Linked DNA regions of Homo sapiens: region 1 is linked to region 2. Evidence: fine-mapped expression QTL. A gene starts in region 2. The other region holds a variant in brackets. All regions are shown on one strand. Distances are between the middles of the regions. Region 1 overlaps COL9A3 (collagen type IX alpha 3 chain). Region 2 holds the start of TCFL5 (transcription factor like 5).

Region 1 (8,576 bases), 40 kb before region 2:
GAATGCCGGCACTGAGGTGTGTGTCTCTGGGTCCCCTGAGGGGCCCGTGCCCCTGTGTTCGGGGTTCTGGCCTCTGGCTGAAGTGGGGAGAGGCACGTCCTTTGGGTGGTTGGGGGCCGGGGGTCTTGTTGGAGGCTGCTGGGCTCTGGAGCCAGCCATGGAGGGGGCTTAGGAGCCGACTCAGTCCTGAGATGATGTCCCCTATGGGTATCTCAGGACTGGTGTGGGCCAAGCAGCAGGAGGAGGCGGCTGAAATTCTACAATTGTGCCTCCCTCGGAGGGACCGTCTGGGGTGAACCTCCCCATGTGACCACCACCAGGGCAGGAGTCCCCTCAGGGCCTGTCCACGCTGTGTGGTCCCCGTGGAGGGCTGTGGAGGGCTGCACCAAGAGCCCCCCATGACCCACCCTCTGCCCCCCTGCCCAGCTCGGCCTCAATGGCCACAGCCTCCTTCCAGTCTGTCCAGTTCACCCCTTTGCCCAGTGCTGCCCCACACATGGGAGGGTGCCCTCTAGGTAGGGATCGGGGGCTCAGGGGCCCCTTTTGTCTGCTGGGGCTGGGCCTCTGGGGCTGATTTGGAGGCCAGCGCTGCTCTTTTCCCCGAGGCGGGGTTCTTGAGGGACCCCTGATTTTCAGGGTTACATGTGGGTGTCTTTCCTCACAGGGAGAAGCTGGTCCTCCAGGTCTGCCTGGGCCCCCGGTGAGTGTCCCTGGCTGGGGAGACAGCCTTTTTCCAGTCTGGAGAGAAAGGGGGAACTCAGAACAGAGGGGTCATTGATATCCTGTCTCATCCTGCCGGAGCCCGGGTTGCCTGAGGGGAGGCCTCAGAGGGCTTGGAGCAGGCCTGGAGCCAGCGGGGCGGGAGGGGAGTGTGTGGGCTCAGCCTCTGCATGTTCAGGGCAGGGCCTGGCTTTGAAGCTTTCTTTGGACCAGCGCCAGGCAGGCCGGGACCGGGGCTGGTACAGCCCTTCAGGTCCCCCAGGCCTGAGGTCACCTGGAGCCCTCCCACCTTCTTCAGTTCCAGGGGTTGAGGGTCCTGGGGCTCAGAGCCCTGTCTGGGCCCACTGGGGGTCCGACAGAGATGCCTGCTGGCCCTTAGCCAGGGAGGCCGAGGTGACCAGACGAAGGTCTTACAGATGCCACTGAGGGATGGGGCGGGCAGCCTTCCTGGGCCAGCAAGGTGTGGGCAAGCAGGACACACGTGCCCCAGCTGAGCCGGGTCTGCCAGACAGTAGGGGGGACCCAGGAGAGGGGCCCATCCCGTATGGTTGGGCTGGGGGGAAGTGGAAAGCATTTTGCTTCATTGCTGAAGGCCTGGGCTCCAGGCCAGACCCCGCCTTCACATCTCTGCCCTTTCCTCCTGCACAGGGACCAAAGGGGGCCCCAGGAAAGCCGGGGAAACCAGGAGAGGCTGGGCTGCCGGGACTGCCGGGTGTGGATGTGAGTGCGCCTGCCCCTCCCCGCCATGCCCCACTCCCCGCTCCGGGTCCCTGGAGGAGTCCGGCCCTAATTGCTGTTGTCCAGCTGGGCCTGCTCAGGCGGGAAGCCCAGTCCTGAGAGAAGTCTCCAGAAGTCCCCAACAGGGGTCCTTTGGCCTTCATCCCAGACGCCACCAGCATCTGGCAGGGGACAGAGCCAGCCCAGTGGAGTCGGAAGTCCCGCCAGCCCTCCTTGCTTGTCCAGGAATGAGTGCCCATTGTCAGGACCTTCTGCCCACTGCTGGCCTCACTTAGTCATCTTGGGCTCCAGGCCTGGCCCCAGGGCCACGGAGTTTTGTTCGGAGGAAGCCGGGCCTGAGAAGTGAGCTGTCCAGTCCTGCTGGGTTGGTCCCCGAGGCCTGACTACAGCAGGTGCCTCCGTTGCTGGCTTCCCGCTGGCTGCCCCCTCCCTCCTCCCAGAGCCTCTGGCTACAGCAGGCAGACAGTGGACAGGGCCAAGAGAGGAGGCTGCCACCCTAAGGGTCTTCTATGCCTCTCTGGACTCACCAAGGGAAGGGTCCGTGCTTCCATTTTTGCCTGGGGGGTGGCATGTGCTTCCCATGTGGCCCCTCGAGCTCGCCCTCTGCCTCTCCCCAGGGTCTGACTGGACGAGATGGACCCCCTGGACCCAAGGGTGCCCCTGGGGAACGGGTAAGTGCCTGCGCCGAACCCAGTGGCTTGGGTTCAGAGGTGAGGTCCCCTGGCCACCTCTGGCTGCTCTGTGTCCACAAGGCCAAGGAGCTGGTAGTTCCAAGGACAGCTGCCCTGCCCGTGCCTGGGGTGGAGGGGCAGAAGGGCAGGGTGCCAAGTGGCCAGTCCCCTGTGCCTGCCTCCCTGCCTCACCTCCACGTATGGTCAGAGTTGTCCTGGTATCCAGACCATGGCAGGGAGAAGGGGGATGGTTTGGGGGAACCCACCCCAGGTGCCTCCTCAGAATGTCCCTGAAGCCCCCAGGGCCCTGGGCAGACCACCACCAGGGACCCCCGGGCACGCAGCCTGCAGAGTCCCCTGTGCCTGCCTGTTGGACACTGAATCCTTTACCCTGACGGAGCGGCACCACCACCCAAGGGTGCCTTTCTCCCCTTGTGGCTTCTGAGTACAAACCCGAAGCCAGCATTCTCTCTTTGGCTTCATAAGACGTGGCTGTCAGCCAACCGGGTGCCACTGGCCCCAGGCGCAAAGCATCACAGAGGGCAGGAAGGCTGGGCTGGGGACACGAGGACACAGCCCTGCCCTTGGGACCCTTGGGAGCTCGTCAGGCATGAGGCGGATTCTGAGCTGAAAACAGGAGGGAAACAGTAGCTGCTGGCAGCCGAGTCCGTGGTGCCCAGGGGTGTGGGGTGGGCTGGTCCCCAGGCTTTCAGGAGGGGCCTCCAGCCTCAGCACAGGGCCCGTGCGTGCCGTCCAGGGAATGAGGCATTTCAGGCAGCAGGGGCCAGACAGGGCCCAGAGGGTGTGGAGGGCAGACAGGGCCTGGCTGCCCAAGGCTCTGGGGCTCGCTGACGTGGGCGGGGGCTGAGGACTCAGCAGGCTCCGTGGGTGGGTTATCGGGAGGGCTTCCTGGTGGAGACAGGCACCC[C/G]GGGTCACTTCGGTGCCTCTCAGCCCTGCCTCAGGTTGCACCTTCTTGCAGCGAGCGCTGGGACTCTGGTGCCATCTGTCTCCAGCAGCTCCCCAGGACGGCAAAGACCCTCCAGGTCAAGAGGGCTCAGAGGCCCTGCCCCTCTGTGAAGTGGGGACTTGGACCCTGTTGTCCTGGGAGTTGGAGTTGTGACGTCACACTTCAGAGGGAGGGGATTGGGTTTGCAAATAGAGGCCCAGCCCAACCTAGACGCCTGCTTTCCTCCCACAGGGAAGTCTGGGACCCCCGGGGCCGCCCGGGCTGGGGGTGAGTATGGAGTGTGGTCCTCTCCTCTCCATGGGAGTTTGGGGAGCTGGAGAGTCTGGTCTAAATGGGGTGGCCTCCAGGAATCCCAGGGACCATCCCTGGCCCTCTCATCTGCAGCCTCTCCGGAGGCTGGTGCCTGGATGGGGTCCTGGTGCCCTCTCTGGGCTGGGACCAGACACCCATCCCTGGAACCGCCCTTTCCCCAGGACCCACCTGAGCCATCTTAGGGAGGGGTGAGGCGCAGCCCTTCTTGTGCCTGGCAGGCTCTGACCCCATGTTTGGCTTTGCAGGGCAAAGGCCTCCCTGGACCCCCCGTGAGTACTGACAACCCTTGGGGCCCTGAGCAAGCACGCAAGTCCCGAGAGCCTGCCAGGCTGGGATGTCCCAAACCGTGCCTGGGGGTGGGGCTTCTCAGGGGCAGCCATCTGACCACCCCATACTTGGAGCCCCTCTCCCTTCGGAGGCGGCACACCAACCCTGGGTGGGGATCCTCGGGGCTTCCGGGTGCAGACCTCCCCACCTCTCTTTACTTCCCTCCAGGGAGAGGCAGGAGTGAGCGGCCCCCCAGGTGGGATCGGCCTCCGCGGCCCCCCGGTGAGTGGCTGTCCCAGAGCCCCTCAGAGTGTGCTCACCTGTGGCCTCCACCCCCAGACTCAACAGCCAGGGGCTCCCTTCCCCTCTCCCTTTTCCCTTTCTCCCCCAACCCCACCTTGGTGGGTGTTGGTAGAAGCCCTGGCCAATGATCCAGACCCGACCTCAGGACGCAGACACCAGCACAGTCCGTGGGAGTGGGGGCTGGTGGGAGCTGGGCGTGTCCACCTCCCTGGGAGAAGCCGGGCACCTCACTCAGGTGGGGGCTGGTCCCACTCTGTCTAAGTCATACCCCCTCCCCAGGGACCTTCTGGACTCCCCGGCCTCCCTGGTCCCCCAGGACCTCCCGGACCCCCTGTAAGTACTGGGCAGAGGCTCTAAGAAGTGCTGGGCATGGACTAGGACACTGGGTTGGACCCTCCCCATTCCCCCTCCCCAGGCTCCATGCCCCTCCGAGATCTCCTAACCCTAACTTGGCCACTCCCAGGAACAGTCAATGGTGGGGGCAGTGGCTGTGGCTAGGCCAGCCAACTTGGGGATGGTCAGGACTCAGGTCCCCATGGCCATCCTGCCCCAAGGACAGGTGGATTCTGTCGTTGTCACATGCCCTGTGGGTGGGCCAGCAGCTCCCAGCACTGGCCACTTGGGGGACAGGATGAAGGGTCTCCAAGTCCCCTGGTGGATGGGGAAGGTTGTGGTCCGTCAGAGAGTGGGTGGGTGGGTTGGGTGGCTGCAGGTGGCTGGGGAGGGCGGGAGAATGTCAGCTGTCTCTTTTTGTCTTAGGGACACCCAGGAGTCCTCCCTGAAGGCGCTACTGACCTTCAGGTAGGCACTTGAAGCCATTTGTTAAGGGTGCTGGGGGGTGCCTACCTTGGGGGGAGGGGTTCTGGCCTGGAGAGGGGCTTGTCCATACTGGCAAGAAGGCAGGGCCCGAGCCCTCCCTGGGGACAGGAGCTCAGAGCAGACAGCTCGGGCACAACCTGGCAGAGAGGCTGGCTGGGACCTCCCCCTCCCCCTTCCCACCCTCCTCACCACCGTCTAGACCTGCACTGTCCCTCATGAAGCCACCAGGCGCATGGAGCTGTACAAATGTAATGAATCACAATCATGTCACAGAGCCATCCAGCTCCCCTGCGTCATCCGCAGAGGGCGCCCTTGGCCACAGATGGCGACAGAACTGGAGTCTGGGACCCACCTTTATCTTGATCTTTGAGCCTTGTCATTTGCCTGAAAAGAAAACAGGCTCAGGTCAGGCGCAGTGGCTCAGGCCTGTAATCCCAGCACTTTGGGAGGCCCAGACAGGAGGATCGCTTAAGCTCAGGAGTTTGAGACCAGCCTGGGCAACATAGTGAGATCTTTGTCTCTACAAAAAATTGTTAAAGTAGCCAGACGTGGTGGCGTGCCTGTTGTCCTAGCTACTTGGATGGCTGTGGTGGGAGGATCACTTGAGCCCAGGAGGCAGTGGTTGCAGGGTGCTGTGATCAAGCCACTGCACTCCAGCGTGAGCAGCCAAGCTCAAGCCTGTCTCAAAAAAATGAAGAGGAAAGAAAATGGGCTTCGGAGGCCACGGATCCATCTCTCCTCTCTGTTTGGCCGTCCGTGGTGGCAGTCAGCGCCTTGTTTCCATAGAGAGGTTTGATAGTTTTGAAGGGAAAAGCTCGGCCCACTCTGACCTGACCACCGACGCTGTCTACCAGCCTCTCTCCTCACCCCACCCCGGGGCCTAGGTGCCTGGCCAGCCTGTGTCCCAGAAGGGAGGCTTTAGGGAACCTTCCAGAATGTGGTGCGTGGTTGGGCCCCCGATCGTGGGCTGAGTGGGGCAGGGGCTGAAGATACGGGTCTGCACCCTTGGCCTGGCCTGCCCATTGCAGCTGTAGGATCATCTAGAAGCAGCCCTGGGTTTCCTGAGCATCAGACCTGTTGCCTGGGCTCACAGTGCCCCTCCTAAAAGCCCCATGCCGAGCACATTCCTGTGCTGAGGATGGGCCCGACCTGAGGCTGCTGCAAGGCCCCCTGCAGTGCCGGCCGGGACTGTGCTGAATGGCTGCTTTGATAGCCAGTGTCTGCCGTGGGGCCGGCTGCTCCATGCAGCCCCTGCTGCACTTGGCCAGTGCTGAAGGAGACCCTGTCTGTGTCCTGTCCCAGTGCCATCACCTGTACGGAGTGGCCTCCTGGGGTCCCGTCACTGTGTGGAGTGGCCTCCTGGGGTCCCGTCACTGTGTGGAGTGGCCTCCTGGGGTCCTGTCACCCAGAGTGTCCCGACACCCGCGCGGAGTGGCCTCCTGGGGCCCCGTCACCCACGCGGAGTGGCCTCCTGGGGTCCCGTCTCTGTGTGGAGTGGCCTCCTGGGGTCCTGTCACCCAGAGTGTCCCGACACCCGCGCGGAGTGGCCTCCCGGGGCCCCGTCACCCACGTGGAGTGGCCTCCTGGGGTCCCATCATCTGTGCGGAGTGGCCTCCTGGGGTCCCGTCACTGATGCGGAGTGGCCTCCTGGGGTCCTGTCACCATGAGGAGTGGCCTCCCGGGGTCCCGTCACCGTGCAGAGTGGCCTCCTGGGGTCCCGCGGGCGCTGACCCCTGCGTCGGACGTCCTGCTCTGTTTGGCTGGGAGGGGTCTGACTGCTCTGTTTTCCGACAGTGCCCAAGTATCTGCCCGCCAGGTCCCCCAGGGCCCCCTGGAATGCCAGGGTTCAAGGTGAGTCACGGGTGACTGGGACCCAAGCACCACCCTGTGCTGGGCAGGAGGCAGCTGGGCTCCCATGGGGCTGTGGAGGTGGCGGGTCCAGAAAGCTGGACCCTGGTTCCAGGGTTGCCCCAGGAAGAAAGCTAGGCCAGCCTCCTTGTCCCGCCTTCAGCACCCCAGTGACACGCTGATGTGGCCAGGCTGGGACTGGCCATAGGCGTCAGAGACTGCGGGGGAGAGCTAGCCTCAAGCTCCCACCCCAGCCCAGCCCTGGCCCGCTCCTGACCGCAGAGCGCCCTCATGTGGGTCCTAGCGCCTCTCAGGCCTCAGTTTCCCCATGAGGGCCCAGACCCGCGGTCCTGTGCGCTGCCGTGTGGCGGGCCCTGGGCTGACTGACCCTGCAGGCCTCACTTCAGTGTTGCCAGGGAGGGGGTGTCGGGGGGTCTGGGTGGGGCAGTGACCCCACATTTGCTTGCAGGGACCCACTGGCTACAAAGGCGAGCAGGGGGAAGTCGGCAAGGACGGCGAGAAGGTGAAGCTGCCGCACAGCAGCTGGGGAGGAGCTGGGGACTGGAGGCTGGGCTCCGGCGGGAGGGAGGGGCTGGGCTCCGGCGGGAGGGAGGGGCTGGGCTCCGGCGGGAGGGAGGGGCTGGGCTCCGGCGGGAGGGAGGGGCTGGGCTCCGGCGGGAGGGAGGGGCTGGGCTCCGGCGGTGGGGAGGGACCGTTTCATGGGTGCACCTGCACTGGCACCTTCTGTGCCTGTCTTCCAGACAGGGCCTGGCTGGTCAGAGCTGGGTGATTTAGGCAGGGTCCCTGGACAGACCCCGTCCTGCCTGGCCTCGCTGTGGAAGCTCCCTGGTTTGTGTCTGTGGCCGGGGCGAGGGGCATCTGTGAGGATGGCTGGCTTTAGCCTGTAGCCTCCCCTCACCTGTGGTCGCTGTCCGTGGAGGGTGTCTGTCCATGGTCACCTGCAGGCCGGGGGACCAGGTCTGGGATGCCCTTTAGCGTGGCTGGAGTGATCAGATGAGGAGACCCCAGGTGCACATCAGAGGGGTCCCTGCTTGGCCACGAGGAGGGGCCTGGACAGGGCTGAAGGGCCTTGTGGGAACAGTGACCACGGACCCCGGCCCGGCAGGGCGAGGCCACCGAGACTCGCGGGACTGCTCTGGAACTGTGGGCAAGTGTCCCCTTCACAGAGCCTCCAAGGCCCAGCTGTGAAGGGGGCAACACCCCCAGCTGCTTGGGCTTGAGTAGGGTGACTGGAGGCACCGAAAGGTGCAAGGAGAGCCAGACTGGGCCGCTGACCACCCTATCCCCTCTGTTTCAGGGTGACCCTGGCCCCCCTGGGCCCGCCGGCCTCCCGGGCAGCGTGGGGCTGCAGGTGAGGCTAGGAAGGGGTAAGGATGGTGGGATGGGAACTCAGCCCACAGAGTGATCAAGCCCTGCACATATCTACCCCCGAGGGGGCCAGCTCCGGCTGGGGGGTGTTTGGCCAACACCCAGGCACAGGAGCGCGACCTGGCTGGGGGTCCCACCTCTGCCAAGGCTGCTGACCTCAAGGCTGGTGCCCCCTCCCTCTGGGGGACCTGAGCTGAGGCTGAGGGCTCATGGAAGACACCAGGGCTCCCAGGGGTACCCCGAGGGCCTTGGCCCTGGGTGCTCCCCGGGGTGGAGGTGCAGCCCCAGCCTCTGCATCTGTGCCTCTCTCTCGCAGGGCCCCCGGGGATTACGAGGACTGCCAGGGCCACTCGGGCCCCCTGGGGACCGGGTAAGTCCTGCAGCCCCTAGTGGGGGCCGGCCAGGTGGCTGGGGGCCTGGTTGTCTGCACCTCCAGACTTCAGATGGGCCCCGTGAGTGACACTCTGAAGCAGCCGGCACCCTGGCTCTGGCCATCGCCACTGTGGCGCAGGCCTTGCTCTGGGCCCCTGTTCTCGCATGTG
Region 2 (11,273 bases):
CCCAGCAATCTTAAAAGAACCAGGCAATAGCCAGGAGCGGTGGCTCACACCTGTAATCCCAGCACTTTGGGAGGCCGAGGCGGGCAGATCACGAGGTCAGGAGATCAAGACCATCCTGGCTAACATGCTGAAACCCCGTCTCTACTAAAAAATACAAAAAAATTAGCCAGGTGTGGTGGCAGGCGCCTGTAGTCCCAGCTACTCAGGAGGCTGAGGCAGGAGAACGGCATGAACCCGGGAGGCGGAGCTTCCAGTGAGCAGAGATCGCGCCACTGCACTCCAGCCTGGGCGACAGAGCAAGACTCCGTCTCAAAAAAAAAAAAAAAAAAAAAGAACCAGGCAAAACTTGCTGAACTCAAGCTGGCTGGTAAGCAGCAGTTACCAAAACAGCCTGACCACTCTCCTCAGAAAGGCCTGCAGTCAGGGCTGGCCCTTAGTGGAGTCTGCAAACCTAGATTCAGGGAGTTAAGAGTGCCCCCAGAACCTACACTGTGCAAACGATATGGCTGACACTGAACAACTGCTTTCCTTCTGGGAGACTGGACTGTGGTTGCATGCATGGGGGCAGTGCCTACGTGACACGCCCCTGGTCTCTAGCGAGCTTTCCTGGTTGGCAACACCTCACCCACGTTTTCAGACCACATGGCTGGGGGCATGAGGGGCAACCTGCCTGACTCCACAGGGCGCGCTCTTAGAAGCTTGCACCTCAGCTCCTGCCTTCTCCCCACGCGCCTTTGCTGATCGCACCTGGCATCCTTTCTCCATAGTAAGTCACAGCCTGAGAGTGACTGCATGCGGAGTCCCGGGAGTCCTCCTAGTGAGCCAGCGAGCCTGGGCATAGTCTGGGGGATCCTTGATCCATCTGGGAAAGCTAACGATGCTCCTACCTGCTTTATTCCCTCTGAACGCAGAAACGGCTAAGGATCACTCATCTGTGATAACCATGTATGACTAAGGTAATCATATATGAGTCAGCCTGACAAGCAGTCACACGTATTACCTTCTATCTCTTTCCATTCGGTTATGCCTCTCCCTACGTTGAGACCTTCCTCCCTGGGGCCCACTCTGGGCCTGCTCCCCCAGGTTTGCCTGTGAGGACTCCGAGGACTGCCAAGCGCCTTGTGTGGCGGTGGCACCTTCGCCCACATTCTGAATCTCTCCAAGGGCTCTTCGCTCTACATTTGTGTCCAACTGACGCATTCTACTCCGATTCCTCTTCAGTGCTTGTTTGCATAGCGCTGCTTCTTTGCGAAAGAAGAAAAAAGTGGTTTTTAATTTTGTATTCTTATCTCAATTAATGCTGAATACAGTTTTGGCCTTTTCAATCCAAGATATAAACATTATTGGGTAAGCAGCACAGAGAACCGAAACACAAAGAGATGTACTAATGCAGTTTTTCAGCATCAGCAGGGACCATGAAGCCCAAGCCTATTTTATACAACGAAACTGAACAAGAATCAATCATCACACTAAATACGTTTTCCAAGTGCTATGCAACCAATATGACCTCATCCAAAGCCCCTCTTTTTAATTAACAGGTGTTATCTATGAATACAGAAAACAAGAAGTTGTTTACTTTTTCTAAAGGTCAGAATGGAAAAAAAAAAACAACAACAACAAACCACCTGGACATATTTCCTCCCAAAAATATTTTCTTTATATACAATTATTCTAAGAACAAGAAAAAAAAACAATTATTCTAATATGACAGTATTTTTACTGCAATGCTCAGAACAAAACTGCAGCAGCGTGTGTGTGTGCCCTCGCCGCAGAAGTGGCTCTCCTCCCCAAAGCAGGAAGAAGTAGCGTCCGAGCTTTTCTGCTGCGTGACAGGCTATGCCACGTGTGCGTCAGTGGAACTGTATCCATCAAAGGACCACAGGCACGTGACTGGCAGGCGTGCTCATGTGCACGCGTATGCCACACAAAGCACCCATTTCAGAAGGATGATGAAGCTTTCAGCAGGAGAGAGAGGAATTCGGTCGTTTTGGTGATATTTTATTCCTTAACCTGAGTAGTCGGCACAGAGGCTGCTTTAATACTCATCTTTGTATCTTACAAATGTGAACATATACTTTGGCATAAAATTTTATAGGGAGGAAAAGGAAGGACTGACATGGGAGAAGGCGGTAGCTCTTCCTCCCCATCTTGTCTTCACCAACTCTTGGAAAGCTAAGTGTAAGGAGTGTTCTTTTTTCGGGTCACTTCACAAATCAGTTTCCCAGGGAGGAAGGGGCTACGCAGGTGTTTCCCAGGGAGGAAGGGGCTATGCAGGTGTTTCCCAGGGAGGAAGGGGCTACGCAGGTGTTTCCCAGGGAGGAAGGGGCTACGCAGGTGTTTCCCAGGGAGGAAGGGGCTACGCAGGTGTTTCCCAGGGAGGAAGGGGCTACGCAGGTGTTTCCCAGGGAGGAAGGGGCTACGCAGGTGTTTCCCAGGGAGGAAGGGGCTACGCAGGTGTTTCCCAGGGAGGAAGGGACTATGCAGGTTAGCGCAGCAGTGCCTTCAGCAGTGACTTTATTTCCAAACTTTCCGAATCACCTTACAGCCTCTCCCTGGCAGCCCTAATAGGGTCCTCCTATTAGCAGCCACCTATCCAAAGGCTTTCGGCAGATGTTAGATGACTGCCTCACTCATCGAGTATAACATAAGGAAAATAAAAAACTATAAAGTACTTTCAGTAACTTGAAAATAACTGAAAATTTATGTAAGTCTATCACTTTACTGTTAAGAAAAAGCCCTCAAACGCAACGTTCTCACACCAAGATTAATTATGTTTGAGAATCAGAATAATGTTTAAAGCGAAAAGACAGGGAAGCGGGTGGACAGACCCCTGAGATACACAGACACCTCCAAGACTGTTTCACATGTGTACAAACCATCTGTCTCCCCTGCCCCCCAAGGCCAAAATGCCATCAGCCACAGGGCTCAGTCAGAAGAAAGCTCCCACTACCTGCTGCTTCATCGCTTACCTCCCACTTTAATCCAAACTTGCTCAGGCAAAACTTTGTTTCTACTACCTAACGTCTGTTTAGTGGATTCAATTTCTTGCTGATAACAGAAAGAAAATGCTCTAGGCAATCCAATATCCTGGTGCTTGGCAGCTTCAAGTACAGAACATGAGTTACTAGAACTCTGGAAAAAAATGAAGCAACAGGAATTTTATCAATATGTGGCTTACTCTCCTCTTTACTGCACAAATGAAATGCACTTAACAAACATCAAAACTACTAACACGTAATTTGAAGAACTTTAGTTGCACTGAAGATTTAAAAATATTCGCATACCACATAAACACTCAACTTTCACAGGTATTTTTTTGTTTTTGTTTTTTTGTTTTTTTTTTTGAGACAGGCTCTCACTCTGTCGCCCAGACTGGAGTGCAGGGTCGCGATGTCAGCCCACCACAACCTCCACCTCCCAGGCTCAAGCGATTCTCCCGCCTCAGCCTCCTGAGCAGCTGGGATTACAGGTGTCCGCCACTACCACCTGGTTAATTTTCGTACGGGGTTTCACCATGTTGGCCAGGCTAGTCTTGAACTCCTGAACTCAAATGACCCACCCACCTCGGCCTCCCAAAGTGCTGGGATTACAGGTGTCGGCCTTGGCGCCCGGCTTAAAAGGTTATTAAGCTCACTGAAGGGAAAAAAAAGTACTTGGGACCTAACCAAAATAAGTTAAAATTTACCCATTTAATACAAAAGAGCAAAGCTTCACAAATCATGTTCCCTACCTGTGTCTGTGAAAGATTAGAATTTCCACTAGTAGAGCAAGCATTTGTAGTAAACAGTGGGTATGTAAATTGCAAAGCAGTAGTTGTAGCCGCAGTTTTATTTTTCACTAATGCTGTACATTTGTTTTGTTGCTGAAGAGGAACATTCATTAGTTCAGATGGATGTCGAATGAGAGTTACCAAACTGCCAAGACAAAAGAAAGCCCAGAAGTGTCAGCAATACGTGGCAGACAAGCATCCACCATCCCACTCCCATGGCTCTGGCTAGTTTTTCCAGACAGCAACCCAACTCTCATCCTGGAAATCTCTACACAACAATTAGCAACTATCGCTGCTGTGGAAGTCCTCCTCTTCCTATGGAGGAAAAGCAAAACTGCGCCACCTCCCTGCTCTCATCACATCCTGACACCAATCTCACTTTTGCCATCCTCCAGTGTGACCACGATGGGCAACTACAGGCTGGGATGAGCAGAAAACTGCGGACGCAGCCCCTTCCACAGCCATCCCTGAGGGTCGCCAAGGGGGCGGCTGCAGGCTGGAGCCTCATTTTAGAGCTCAAAGCCTGCAAACCCCCGTCGGGCCTTCCTAGGCTTCCCTGACATCCAAGAGTGCCACCCGGAGCACATGGTTCCCAGGAATTCTGCGCGCTCGGCCCCACTCCAGGCGGGGCCACTGAGGGAGGGGGTGTTTAGTTTCTGGAAGTACCTGCTCCCCGGGGCCCGCACAGCGCACACAGCCTTTCGGGGCGGCCCCAGACCCGGTGAGGTCCGCGCCCTGTGCCGCCGGGAGGGCAGGCTGGGGGCGTGCACAGCGAGGGCCCCCTTTGCCTCCGCCCCGGCCCCGGCCCCGGCCTCGGCCTCCACCCGGGCCCCGCCAGCCCCCGGCCGCCGGGCACGCACTTGTTGAGCGCCCCGCCCGGCTCGGGGGGCTCGGGGCCGCGCGGCGCGGGCGGCGGCTCGGCGGGGATGCTGTTGAAGCGGTCCTCCAGGCGGACGCGCACGGCCGGCTTGGCCCGGGCCTCGGGCGCGCCGTCGGGTCCAGCCGCAGCCGCAGCCGCGCCCGCGCCCTCCTTGGCGGCGCCGTCGGCCCGGGCCCTCGCTCCGTCCCCGCCGCCCGACGTCTTCTCCGCCGCGCCCGCCTCGCTTAGCAGCATCATGCGCAGCTCCTGGAAGTCGATGTGGCCCAGGCAGGGCGCGTCGGCCGCCAGCGCGGACGGGCACAGCACGGGGTACACGGGCGCCGCGCCCCCCTGACCGCCCGCCGCGAAGCCGCCCGCGCCTGCGCCCGGGCCCGCCGCCGCCAGCAGCGCCGAGTTGAGGCGCGTCTCGAGCTCGCCGTCAGCCGCCGCCTCCATGTGCGAGCAGAGGATGTGCTGCAGCTGCGTGTACTCCACCTCCGTCATCTCCACCAGGCTCAGGTCGGTGGTCGTGAAGCTCAGCCCCGGCTCGCCCAGCGCCGCGTCCCCGCCGCCCGCGCCCTCGACGGCCGCCTCGCCGCCTGCCGCGCCTGCCTCCGGCGGCGGCTCCCGCGGTCCGGGGCCCGACATGGCGGCGCGGCGCGGCCCAACGGCGGCGAGGGCGACGCGGGCGGCGGGCGGCGGGAGGCGGGAGGCGGGAGGCGGGAGGCGACCCCCGGCCCGAGCACTACTCTGCGCCGGCCACAGCCGGCGCGCCGTTGGGGGAGGGAAAACCGCTGAGTGCCGCGCACAGCGCCTGCGCCGCCCCGCCCCGCAACGGCAACCCCACCCCTGCGCCAGCCCCGCCCCCTCCGTTACCCGCCGCCGCCGGCCCCGCCCCCGCCCAACCGCCCGCACGCCCGGCCCCGCCCCACGTCGGCGGATGCTTGCGCGGAGGGCCCGCCCCCACGGCCCAGCCACGCCCCCACAGCTAGGCCACGCCCCCAGCTCAGGCCACGCCCGGTTCCCAGCCACGCCCCTGCTGCCCGGCCACTCCCCGCTGAGGCCCGGCGAGGGCGGCTGCGCTGGAATCAGCGTGATACCTACGCGGTGACACCCTGGGGAGAAGCCACGTCCGTGCGTGCACGTGCGCCCCATTACAGCGGCAGGAATGAAGACGTTGTCAAAACAGCTCCCTGGACCCACAGTCCACAGTGCCCAGGCCATCCGCTTCATCCGCGTAAAATGCGCAGCGCATGGCCGGGTTCTGTGGCTCATGCCTGTAATCCCAGTACTTTGGGAGGCCGAGGCAGGTGGATCAGGAGGTCAGGAGATCGAGACCAGCCTGGCCAACATGGTGAAACCCCGTCTCTACTAAAAATACAAAAATTAGCTGGACGTGGTAGTGCGTGCCTGTAATCCCAGCTACTCGGGAGGCTGAGGCAGGAGAATCGCTTGAACCCGGGAGGCGGAGGTTGCAGTGAGTCGAGATCTTGCCACTGCACTCCAGCCTGGGCAACAGAGCCAGACTTCATCTCAAAAAAAAAAAAAAAATGCACAGCGCGACGGTGGTGGTACATTCCCAGCGCTGGGCCCGCCTCCACCGCTGCATTCACCACCGGTCTCCTGTAGCAGTCAGCACACTGCCCCTCCCCCGCCTGCAGCCACTAATCTTCTGTGTCCAGGAGTTTGCCTAGGCTGGGCCTTCCCTGTTAAGGGAACTATGCAATATGTGGTCTTTAAGAGACTTATTTTTGCAATCTTGAAATAATTCCTGTACTTAACCTCTCACCCACATTCCCATCTCACTCAGTGGTTGTCTGTTCTCTGTCTAGGCATTAGGACACTTAAAGGCCTGTGACTTGCACATCGTCTTCTAAGCCGGGTCTGAATCTTTCGCTCATTTCATCACAGTTTAGACACAGACCAATATATTACAATGATTCAACGATGGGCTATGAAAGCTCAGCCATGCAAATCTAAACTCACACATGTATACATGAAAATAATATATCAGTTTTGGGCAAAACATCAGGTTTCAGAAAACACTACCAAGGAGGAAAGCAAGGACTTAAAACTCTCAAGGACATGGCAACAGAAGTCGTCTAACGTAAAACAGAGAGGGAAGGCTAAGAGAGTGAGCAGAGCATCAGTGAGCTGTGGGGCCGCTTCAAGCAGTGTGATTTGAAGTCCCCTGGGGGTGGAAGGATGGGGAGAAAGACATTTTAAGAAGTAATGATTGCCAGGTGAGGTGGCTCACGCCTGTAATCCCAGCACTTTGGGAGGCCGAGGCGGGCAGATCCCTTGAGGTCAGGAGTTCGAGATCAGCTTGGCCAACATGATGAAATCTCGTGTCTACTAAAAATATAAAAAATTAGCCAGGTGTGGTGGCATGTGCCTGTAATCCCAGCTACTCAGGAAGCTGAGGCAGAAGAATCGCTGGAACCCGGGAGGTGGAGGTTTCAGTGAGTAGAGATTGCACCACTGCACTCCAGCCTGGGAGACAGAGCAAGACGCTGTCTCAAAAAACAAAAACAAAACAACAAAAAAAAATAATGATTGAAAAGTTTTTTTAAAACTACAAACCTACAGACCCAAGAAGTTTAACATACCTCAAACTCAAGAAACATGAAGGAAACTACACCAAGATGGAAAGCAAATTGCTTTATTTATTTATTTTTTTATTTTTTGAGATGGAGTCTTGCTCTGTCTCCCAGGCTGGAGTGCAATGGCACGATCTTGACTCAGCACAACCTCTGCCTCCTGGATTCAAGTGATTCTCCTGCCTCAGCCTCCTGAATAGCTGGGATTATAGGCATGTGCCACCATGCCTGGCCAATTTTTTGTATTTTTAGTAGAGACGGGATTTTGCCATGTTGGTCAGGCTGGTCTTGAACTCCTGACTTCAGGTGATCTGCCCACCTTGGTCTCCCGAATGCTGGGATTACAGGCATAAGCCACCGTGCCTGGCCTCAAATTGCTTTAAATCAGTGAAAAATCTTAAAAGCAGCTGTACACACACACACACACACACACAAGACATTGTGTACAGAGGAACAAAGATAAGAATGATTACAGGCCAGGCGCGGTGGCTCACGCCTGTAATCCCAGCACTTTGGGAGGCTGAGGCGGGCGGATCACAAGGTCAGGAGATCGAGTCCATCCTGGTAAACATGGTGAAATCCCATCTCTACTAAAAATAAAAAAAAATAGCTGGGTGTGGTGGCACAGGCCTGTAATCCCAGGTAACTCAGGAGGCTGAGGCACGAGAACCGCTTGAACCTGGGAGGTGGAGGTTGCAGTGAGCCAAGATCACGCCACTGCCCTCCAGCCTAGTGACAGAGCGAGAGACTCCTTCTAAAAAAATAAATGAAAAGATTGCAGTGATTGCAGACATTTCTTCAGGAATAATGCAAGTCAGAACAGAGTGGAATCACACCTTTGAAGTGCTGAGGGCAAGGGAGAAGCTGACTGATAGTGTCAGGCGTCTGTATTCACAGGCTCTGCGTCTGTGGATTCAACCAAGGATCAAAAATACTCAGAAAAAAATTACTTGCACCGAAATGCACAGACTGCTCTTCCTTGTCATTATTCCTTAAACAATATGGTATAACAAGTATTCATTTAGCATGTACATCGCATGAGGTATTATAAGTAATCTCGATATGTATATATTTTAGAAACAGGGTCTCGCTCTGTCTCCCAGGCTGGAGTAGGATAATACGGTTATAGCTCACTGCAGCCTCGACCTCCTGAGCTCAACCAATCCTCCTGCATGACTCTGCCGAGTAGCTGGGACCACAGGCACACACCACCATGCCCTGCTAATTTTTATTTTATTTTATTTTTTGTAGAGATGGTATCTTACTATGTTGCCCAGGCTGGTCTTGAACTCCTGGCCTCAAGTGATCCTCCCACCTCAGCCTACCAAATTACAGAGATTACAGGTGTGAGTCATCACGCTCGCCGCTACAGATGATTTAAAGTGTATGGAAGAATGTGCATAGGTTATATGGAAACACTATGACATTTTGCATAAGGGACTTGAACATTCGTGGATTTTGGTACCCATGGCAGGTACTGGAACCAATCCCCCAGGGATACTGAGGAATAACTGTAGTTCTATGCCCAGCAAAGATATTTTTCAAAAACAAAGGCAAAATAAAGACTTTTTTGCACTTACAAAAGCTAAAATAATCCATCACTAGCAGACTTGCAGTACAAGACATGTTCCAGAAGTCCTTCAGACAAAAGGAAGGTGAGACTGGATAGAAGTCGGGGTCTCCACAGAAGAATGAAGAGACTGGACGGGTTAAAGCTATTTATTACGAGCCTTACCACAACCACTGCAATACAGCAACAAAGGGTGATGGCTAATAAATCAATAAAGGAGAGAAAATGGAATCAGACTCTCAAAGGGGCAGAAAGTGAGATATGATTGTGCCACTGCACACCAGCCTGAATGACAGACCTCACCTCTAAAGTAAATAAATAAATGATACAAAAATTAAAAATGCAAGAGGCAGAAAAAAGAAAAATAGAACAAAGAGCACACGGGACAAATAGAGAATAAATAGCAAGATAGTAGATTTAAATCCAATAAAAAAAAATCACATGAGATGTAAAAGGTTTAAACACGTCAATGAGAAAGCAGAGACCAGAATGGATAAAAAGTCAGAACTTGGAGGCCGGGCGCGGTGGCTCACGCCTGTAATCCCAGCACTCTGGGAGGCCGAGGCGGGCGGATCACAAGGTCAGGAGATCAAGACCATCCTGGCTAACACGGTGAAACCCCGTCTCTACTGAAAAATACAAAAAATTAGCCAGGCGTGGGGGCGGGCACCTGTAGTCCCAGGTACTCGGGAGGCTGAGGCAGGAGAATGGCGCGAACCTGGGAGGCGGACCTTGCAGTGAGCTGAGGTCCCAGCTCTGCACTCCAGCCTGGGCGACAGAGTGAGACTCTGTAAGTCAGACCTTGGAGTGCCCGTAAGAAACTCATTTTAAAGAGAAAGGATGGAAAGTGCGCACCTCCCTAGCGCTGTCGAAAGGCAGCTGGAATAGGCATATAAACACTAAAGTCAATTTCCAGGAGGCGGGTCTGAAGAAAAAGAAGAAAACAAATACTAAAGTAGATTTCAGAGCCAAGAATTTTGCCAGCGATTCTGGTCATTTCATAGTGAAATAGGGGGCAGAACATTTTCCTGATTAAATGCATCTAATTAGAAAGCTTAAAAATACATGGAGCAGGGCCGGGTGCAGTGGCTCACACCTGTGATCCCAGCACTTTGGGAGGCCGAGGCGAGCGGATCACTTGATGTCAGGAGTTCGAGACCAGCCTGGCTAACATGGCAAAACCCCATCTTTACTAAAAATACAAAAATTGGCTGGGCATGGTGGTGTGCGCCTGTAATCCCAGCTACTTGGCAGGCTGAGGCAGGAGAATCACTTGAACTTGGGAGGCAGAGGTTGCAGTGAACTGATATTGTGCCACTGAACTCCAGCCTGGGCAACAGAGCGAAACCCTGTCTCAAAAAAATAATAAATAAAAAATAACAAAACAAAACAAAACAAACCATGGAGCAGGCCGGGCGCAGTGGCTCACACCTATAATCCCAGCACTTTGGGAGGCCAAGGCGGGCAGATCACAAGGTCAGGAGTTGGAGACCAGTCTGGCCAACATAGTGAAACCCCATCTCTACTAAAAATACAAAAAAATTAGCCGGGCGTGGTGGCGTGAACCTGTAATCCAGCGACTCGGGAGGCTGAAGCAGGGGAATTGCTTGAACCAGAGAAATGGAGGTTGCAGTGAGCTGAGATTGTGCCACTGCACTCCAGCCTGGGCGACAGAGGAAGACTCCATCTCACAAAAAAAAAAAAAATTCTGGGCACGGTGGCTCACGCCTGTAATCCCAGCACTTTGGGAGGCTGAGGCAGGTGGATCACCTGAGGTCAGGAGTCCGAGATCAGCCTGACCAACACGGAGAAACCCCGTCTCTACCTAAAAAAAAAAAAAAAAAAAAAAAAAATTAGCTGGGCATGGTGGCGCATGCCTGTAATCCTAGCTACTCGGGAGCCTGAGGCAAGAGAATCTCTTGAACCCGGGAGGCAGAGGTTACAGTGAGCAGAGATTGTGCCATTGCACTCCAGCCTGGGTGACAGAGTGAGACTCCGTCTCAAAAGAAAGAGAGAGAGGAGAAAGACAGAAAATCAGAAAGGATGCAGAAGACCTGGACAATGCCATCAACCAACTTGCTCTAGTTGATGTTTATAGAACACCCCAACCACCCACATCAGAATACAGTCTTTTCAACTGGATAGGTAACATCTACCAAGATAAACCATAATTTGGACCATAAAATATGTCTCAATAAATTTAAACTTTAGAAAAATATGTCCTCAACCACGACTGAATTTAATTTCAAATCTAATGTAAAGATATTTGAGATATTGTAAATCTCCGAACATTTGGCAACTAAATAATACATTTCTAAATGTCTCACGGGTCAAAGAAATCAAAAGGGAAGTTATAAAGTATTTAGAAATGAGCAAAAATGAAAACGACAACATCAAAATTCATGGAATATAGCTAAAGAAATACTTAGAAAAGTATAGCAATCACAAAAGAAGACAAGTATCAAATTATTAATC

What was found. PIP is the estimated chance that this variant, and not a neighbour inherited with it, causes the effect.
Region 1: its variant is fine-mapped to the expression of TCFL5 in monocytes (TOPMed, PIP above 0.99).

The regions. Positions count from the first base shown.
Region 1 is chr20:62,817,854-62,826,429 of GRCh38, forward strand. COL9A3 (collagen type IX alpha 3 chain) reads left to right here. Exons shown (of 32, transcript NM_001853.4): 3 at 665-700; 4 at 1,369-1,440; 5 at 2,076-2,129; 6 at 3,328-3,363; 7 at 3,654-3,677; 8 at 3,904-3,957; 9 at 4,258-4,311; 10 at 4,738-4,779; 11 at 6,592-6,648; 12 at 7,115-7,168; 13 at 7,964-8,017; 14 at 8,351-8,404. Among named protein-coding and RNA genes, the nearest start is that of COL9A3, 5.1 kb to the left of the region's middle. RefSeq lists enhancers at 126-811, 812-1,499, 5,381-6,069, 6,070-6,757 and a silencer at 7,346-7,405. The variant C/G (reference allele first, on the strand shown) is at 3,058.
Region 2 is chr20:62,856,395-62,867,667 of GRCh38, forward strand. It overlaps TCFL5 (transcription factor like 5), which reads right to left and starts at 5,428. Exons shown (of 6, transcript NM_006602.4): 1 at 4,630-5,428; 2 at 3,731-3,914; 3 at 2,970-3,132; 4 at 1,001-1,244. The coding sequence starts at 5,276. It overlaps LOC105372717 (a long non-coding RNA gene), which reads left to right and starts at 5,041. Exons shown (of 4, transcript XR_936989.4): 1 at 5,041-5,147. RefSeq lists silencers at 4,847-4,996, 5,497-5,686, 5,737-5,836 and an enhancer at 5,221-5,875.